Linked DNA regions of Homo sapiens: region 2 is linked to region 1. The links come from fine-mapping of genetic effects on gene expression. A gene starts in region 1. The other region holds a variant in brackets. All regions are shown on one strand. Distances are between the middles of the regions. Region 1 holds the start of ACVR2B (activin A receptor type 2B). Region 2 has its middle 30 kb from the start of ACVR2B.

What was found.
Region 2: its variant is fine-mapped to the expression of ACVR2B in whole blood (TOPMed, PIP 0.93).

Annotation. Positions count from the first base shown.
Region 1 is chr3:38,452,163-38,455,070 of GRCh38, forward strand. It overlaps ACVR2B (activin A receptor type 2B), which reads left to right and starts at 1,728. Exons shown (of 11, transcript NM_001106.4): 1 at 1,728-2,212. The coding sequence starts at 2,161. ACVR2B-AS1 (ACVR2B antisense RNA 1) reads right to left here and starts at 2,658. Exons shown (of 2, transcript NR_028389.1): 1 at 2,341-2,658; 2 at 1-1,063. It also overlaps a transcript of XYLB not described here. RefSeq lists enhancers at 1,310-1,809, 2,414-2,908 and silencers at 1,528-1,577, 1,588-1,707, 2,128-2,407.
Region 2 is chr3:38,422,015-38,424,922 of GRCh38, forward strand. It overlaps a transcript of XYLB not described here. Among named protein-coding and RNA genes, the nearest start is that of ACVR2B, 30 kb to the right of the region's middle. The variant C/T (reference allele first, on the strand shown) is at 1,183.

The DNA.
Region 1 (2,908 bases):
CAACACTGCTTCTTGCTTGGCACACAGTCGCATAGTATTCAATCCTGTGTTAAATGGCTTAGATAATAAGTCACCTGTAGGGATTATAGCAAGCAGGGACCATCATTTTCACATAGAATTTCCCAGGACTGGAAGGGACTTTTAAAGACCCAGAAATCTTTCTGGGCAGTGCCTCCAAAGTGTGGCCCCTGAGGTGTTCCTGCTGCTCTGGTGACCGGGGGTAGTTGACCCTATTTCAATGTCAATCAGAACAATATACATTCCTTTATAAACTTGTTTTTTTTTTGAGAGAGAGTCTCACTCTGTCACCTAGGATGGAGTGCAGTGGTGCAATCTCAGCTCACTGCAACCTCCGCCTCCCTCCTGTGTTCAAGCGATTCTCCTGCCTCAGCCTCCTACCGAGTAGTTGGAATTACAGGTGTGTGTCACCATGCCCAGCTAATTTTTGTATTATTTAGTAGAGACAGGTTTTTGCCATGTTGGTCAGGCTGGTCTCGAACTCCTGACCTCAAGAGCCTCCTGGGCCTCTAAAAGTGCTGGAATTACAGGTTTGAGCCACCTCGCCCTGCCTATAGTGAACATTTACATAATATTTTGTTTGACTAGGTTTCTGCCATTAAGAAGATGCAAAACCCTGAGGGAGTGTACCTCTTCACTTTGCATATGGGAAAACTGAGGCTCAGAGAAGTGAAATGACTGAGACCTCCAGGTGCCACCTCCCTTTCAGCTGCTCCTGCCCTGCTCCAAGCAAGGATGTGCCAAGTCAAGAGAAGACAGAGGACAATTAATGTTATCTGAGGATCTCGGAGCCTCATCCCTGAGCTATGATGGTCTTTCCCTCCTTAGTTGGGAGCCCCATCACGTTCCTCCGAAGCTCTAGTTGTGTGATAAGGAGGGTGGAATCTGAGACAGAGAACGATGGCCCTCCAAGGAGGGAGTTCGGGGTGAGGAAAACAGCAAAACCATGTGCTAGACAAGATCTTCAACTGCAGGGCTCTGGAGGCAACTGGGAAGTTTTGAAAGTGCAGATTGAAGCTCAGGGCCGCTGTGGGTGGCGCAGGAACTGCAGAAGACAAGATAGGATTAGGGAGGGCCAGCAGGTTGCCAGAGGCCCTTTTCCACCTGCTGGGCTTAGAGGGGCGGGACTCTGCCCGCTCCCTCACTTGGTTGGGTTTAAATGACCACTCCCCGCCCTAGCTGTGCCTTTGAGTGTGTGGCAAGGGATTGCAGACGGGAGACTGCTTGTCAATTCAGGGAAGTCAGCCTCTTTCTGCCACTTAATTCGCCCATCAGTAGAGATCCGACTTTCCCACGGTTCACTGTCACCCCCATTGCACAGGTGGGGAATCCAAGGCACAGAGGCGTCTGGGCCAGAGTCCCGGGACTATCCACTCATTCCGGGGTTGTAGGGCAGCATGTGTCAGGAGCTTGGGCTCGAGCGTGCGGGGCACTAATTGCGAGTGCAGTGGCCACAGGCTCCCGGGCAAAGTGGTCAGGAGCCCATTCCCGCCACCTCCGTCCGCGCGCCCCGCCCTGTCCTCCAGCAAGTTGGTGCACGCGCGTCCTCCCACAGGGCGCGGGATGGGGGCGGGGCCTCCGTGTTGTTGTTTCTCTGGGGCCCCGCCCCTCAGGGGGGCGCGGACCACGCGGCCGGAGGGCCCGCCTCCCCTCCCCCTCCCCGCCCAGCCCGCCCGCCTCTTTGTATCCAACATCCGGGTTTCCCCGCTGGCTCGGCTCCGTGGCCGCCGCTCAGGAGCCATTTTGGACTCGGTTCAGCTCCCCTCCCCCCCACCCCTCCCCCCGTTCATGGCCCCTCCGGACTCGGCCCCTGCGCCCGGGGCCCGGGCCCAGCCCCGCCGCGCTATGCCTGAGTCGGGCGCGCCCCGGCCCGTGCCCCGCCGCCGCCCCCCGGCCCCCGCGTCGCCCCGGAGCCCGGGCCGCAGCCTGCGCCGCCCGCAGCGGCCCTGAGCCCGGCCCCGCCGACCGGCCCTTGGAGCCCGAACGCTGCTCGGGGACGAAGGCGCAGGAAGCGCGCAGGGAACGAGACCGAAGGAAGGAGCGGGAAGGAGAGCGCAGCCGCCGCCTGGCCCTGCGCGCCCCGGGAGCGCCGTGCGGCCCTGCCCGCGGGCTCCGGGTGTGCGCGGGGCGGCGCCGCGGAACATGACGGCGCCCTGGGTGGCCCTCGCCCTCCTCTGGGGATCGCTGTGCGCCGGTAAGAACTGGGCGCGGCGCGGGGACGCCGAGAGGGCGCGCGGGGCTGGCCTCTGGCGCCGCGCGGTGTTTACCAACAAAGGGCGGGCCCGGGGCCTCGTCGCCGCACCACCTGTATTCAGCCCTCACCTCCGGGGGCGTGGGCTGGGGGCGCGGTGGGCGCCCGGCTCGCCGAACTTGGGGGCACGATCTTGTCTGTGCAGTCATCTGCGGGATTCTGGTTCCTAGAGGCGCCCCTGCGATGGGGGCCGGGACGCGGAGCCTCAGGGTCGGAGTTCGGGCTACGCGGGCGCGTGGAACCCAGGGAAAGAGTGAGGAAAACCTGAGCGTGGGGAAGGCGGCCAAGAGGGGTGGGCAGATCTCATTGGGGGTGGCAGGATTGTAGGTGCAGCAGCAGCAGCAGCATGCGGGGAGGGTTGCATGTCCCTCAGAGTCACTAAGTGTAGCGAAGCGAAGGGGGCGGCTTCACGCAGCCCAAAGTCCCCTGCATCTCTTGCCACCAGTCTGCGTCGCGTTACCGGCCCGGCGGGCTGTTGGTGCTGGCTCCCACCTGCTCCCTCTTTCCCTGCCGTTGGCCCCGGGATGCGGAGTGTGGTCGCTTCGCGGGACCGCTTTGTTTGGGCACTTGGGAGGGGAGGGGGTGGGTAAGATGGAAAACCCAACAGGTCCCTCTTCCTTCGGGCCTCCAGGAGGCACG
Region 2 (2,908 bases), 30 kb before region 1:
ACAGGGAAATATTATGGCTACATTTGAGTCTTTTCCTTTTAAAATACTTAAAGAATTTAAACAATTTATTAATCAACATGGACCAGGTTTTCCTTTTGTAATGGGACTGTTAAAGAATGTTGCTGTCTCCAGTCAGATGATGCCAGCGGTATGGCAGGATCACTTCTAGGTAGGTCTAATTTACATTTAAAAGGAGTACAAGTACAAACAGGAGTCATTGATTCAGATTACAGTGGGGAAATTCAAATTGTTATATCTACTTCTGTTCCCTGGAAAGCAGAGCCAGGAGAGTGTATAGCACAACTCCTGATTGTGCCATATGTGGAAATGGGGAGAAGTGAAACTAAACAGACAGGAGGATCTGGAAGTACAAATAAGCAAGGGAGAGCAGCTTACTGGGTAAATCAAATTACTGATAAACATCCTACCTGTGAAATAACTATTCAGGGAAAGAAATTCAAAGGGTTGGGAGATACAGGAGCGGACGTTTCAATCATTTCTCTACAGCACTGGCCGTCTGTGTGGCCAATTCAATCCGCTCAATTTAACATAGTTGGAGTTGGTAAAGCCCCTGAAGTATATCAAAGTATTTATATTTTGCATTGTGAAGGACCCCATGAACAATCTGGGACTATTCAGCCAATTGTAACTTCTGTACCTATAAATTTATGGGGGAGAGATTTATTACAGCAATGGGGAGCACAAGTTCCCCATTACATAGAACAATTATATAGCCCTCAAAGTCAGCATGTGATACAAGAGATGGGGTATGTGCCTGGCATGGGATTAGAAAAAAATTTACAAGGGTTAAAAAAACCAGTTCAAGCGGAAGGAAAAAATTCTTGTCAGGGTTTAGGGTATCATTTTTGATGGCGGCCATTGTTAAGCCTCCGGAACCTATACCTTTAAAATGGTTAACAAGTAAGCCAATTTGGATAGAACAATGGTTGCTGAGTAAAGAAGAACTGGAGGCTTTAGAGGTCTTAGTTACTGAACAATTAGAAAAAGGACATATAGCTCTAACGTTTCCCCCCTGGAATTCTCCACTCTTTGTTATTATTATTATTATTTTTCTTAAGATGGAGTCTCGCTCTGCTGCCCAGGCTGGAGTGCAGTGGTGCGATCTTGGCTCACTGCAAGCTCCGCCTCCTGGGTTCATGCCATTCTCCTGCCTCAGCCTCC[C/T]GAGTAGCTGGGACTATAGGCGCCCACCACCACGCCCGGCTAATTTTTTGTATTTTTAGTGGAGACGGGGTTTCACTGCATTAGCCAGGATGGTCTCGATCTCCTGACCTTGTGATCCACCCACCTTGGCCTCCCAAAGTGCTGGGATTACAGGTGTGAGCCACCATGCCCAGCCCTCCAGTCTTTGTTAAGAAAAAATGTGATAAATGGAGAATGTTGACAGATCTTAGAGCCATTAATTCGGTTAGACAACCTATGGGAGCATTGCAGCCTGGACTGCCTTCTGCTGCTATGATTCCAAAAAATTGGCCTTTAATAGTCATAGATTTAAAAGACTGTTTCTTTATTATCCCCTTAGCTGAGCAAGACTGTGAATGGTTTGCATTTACAATTCCTGTGGTAAACAACCTGCAGCCTGCTTAGCGTTTTCATTGGAAAGTGTTGCCACAAGGCATGTTAAACAGTCCAATGATTTGTCAGACTTATGTAGGACAAGCAATTGAACCTACTCGTAAAAAATTTTCACAGTGTTACATTATTCATTATATGGATGATATACTTTGTGCTGCCCCCACTCAGGAAATATTACTCCAATGTTATAATCACTTGCAAAACTCGATTTCTCATGCTGATTTAATTATAGCTCCTGACAAAATTCAGACTACTACTCCTTACTCCTACTTGGGGACCTTAGTAAATGACACTACCATTGTGCCACAGAAAGTAACCATACATAGGGATCAATTGAAAACATTGAATGACTTTCAAAAATTACTGGAAAACATTAATTGGATATGACCTGCTCTAGGCATTCCTACCTCTGCCATGAGTAATCTCTTTTCTATCCTTAGAGGAGATCCCAGTCTCACAAACCCTTGGCAATTAACAAAGGAGGCTGAGGCAGAGTTACAGCTGATTGAAAAGCAAGTGCATAAAGCTCAAATAAATAGAATAGATCCAGAAAAGATCCAGAAAAGATTGATTTTTCCAACTCAGCATTCACCTACTGGTGTTGTTGTTCAAGAGCAAGATCTTGTAGAATGGCTTTTTCTTCCACATACTAATCCATGGACTCTAACTCCTTATTTGGATCAAATTGCTACTCTGATAGGAAATGGGAGAACTCAAATTGTTAAATTACAAGGATATGATCCTGGAAAAATTTTTGTTCCCCTTACAAAGGCACAAATACAAAAAGCCTTTATAAATAGTCTTAATTGCAAACCCATTTAGCTGATTTCATAGGTGTTCTTGATAATCACTTTCCAAAGACAAAATTATTTCAATTTTTGAAATTAACTAATTGGATTCTCCCTAGAATAACTAAATTTAAACGAATTGAAGGTGCGGAAAATGTTTTTACAGATGGGTCTAGTAATGGTGAAGCTTCTAACTCTGGATCAAAAAGTAAAGTTTTCCAGACGCCCTATACTTCAGCTCAAAAAGCAGAGCTTGTAGTTGTAATTGAGGTGCTGACGGTTTTGAGATGCCTGTCAATGTAATTTCTGATTCTTCATACGTGGTTCATTCCACACAATTAATTGAAAATGTTCAGTTACAATTTCATGCAGATAAACAACTGATGACTTTATTTACCCAATTGCAAACAGCAGTTAAGAGTAGAATGCACCCTTTTTACATAACTCGTATTAGAGGTCATACACCTCTTCCAGGACCTTTGACTGCAGGAAATCAAATTGCTGATTGCCTAGTTGCTATGGCATTA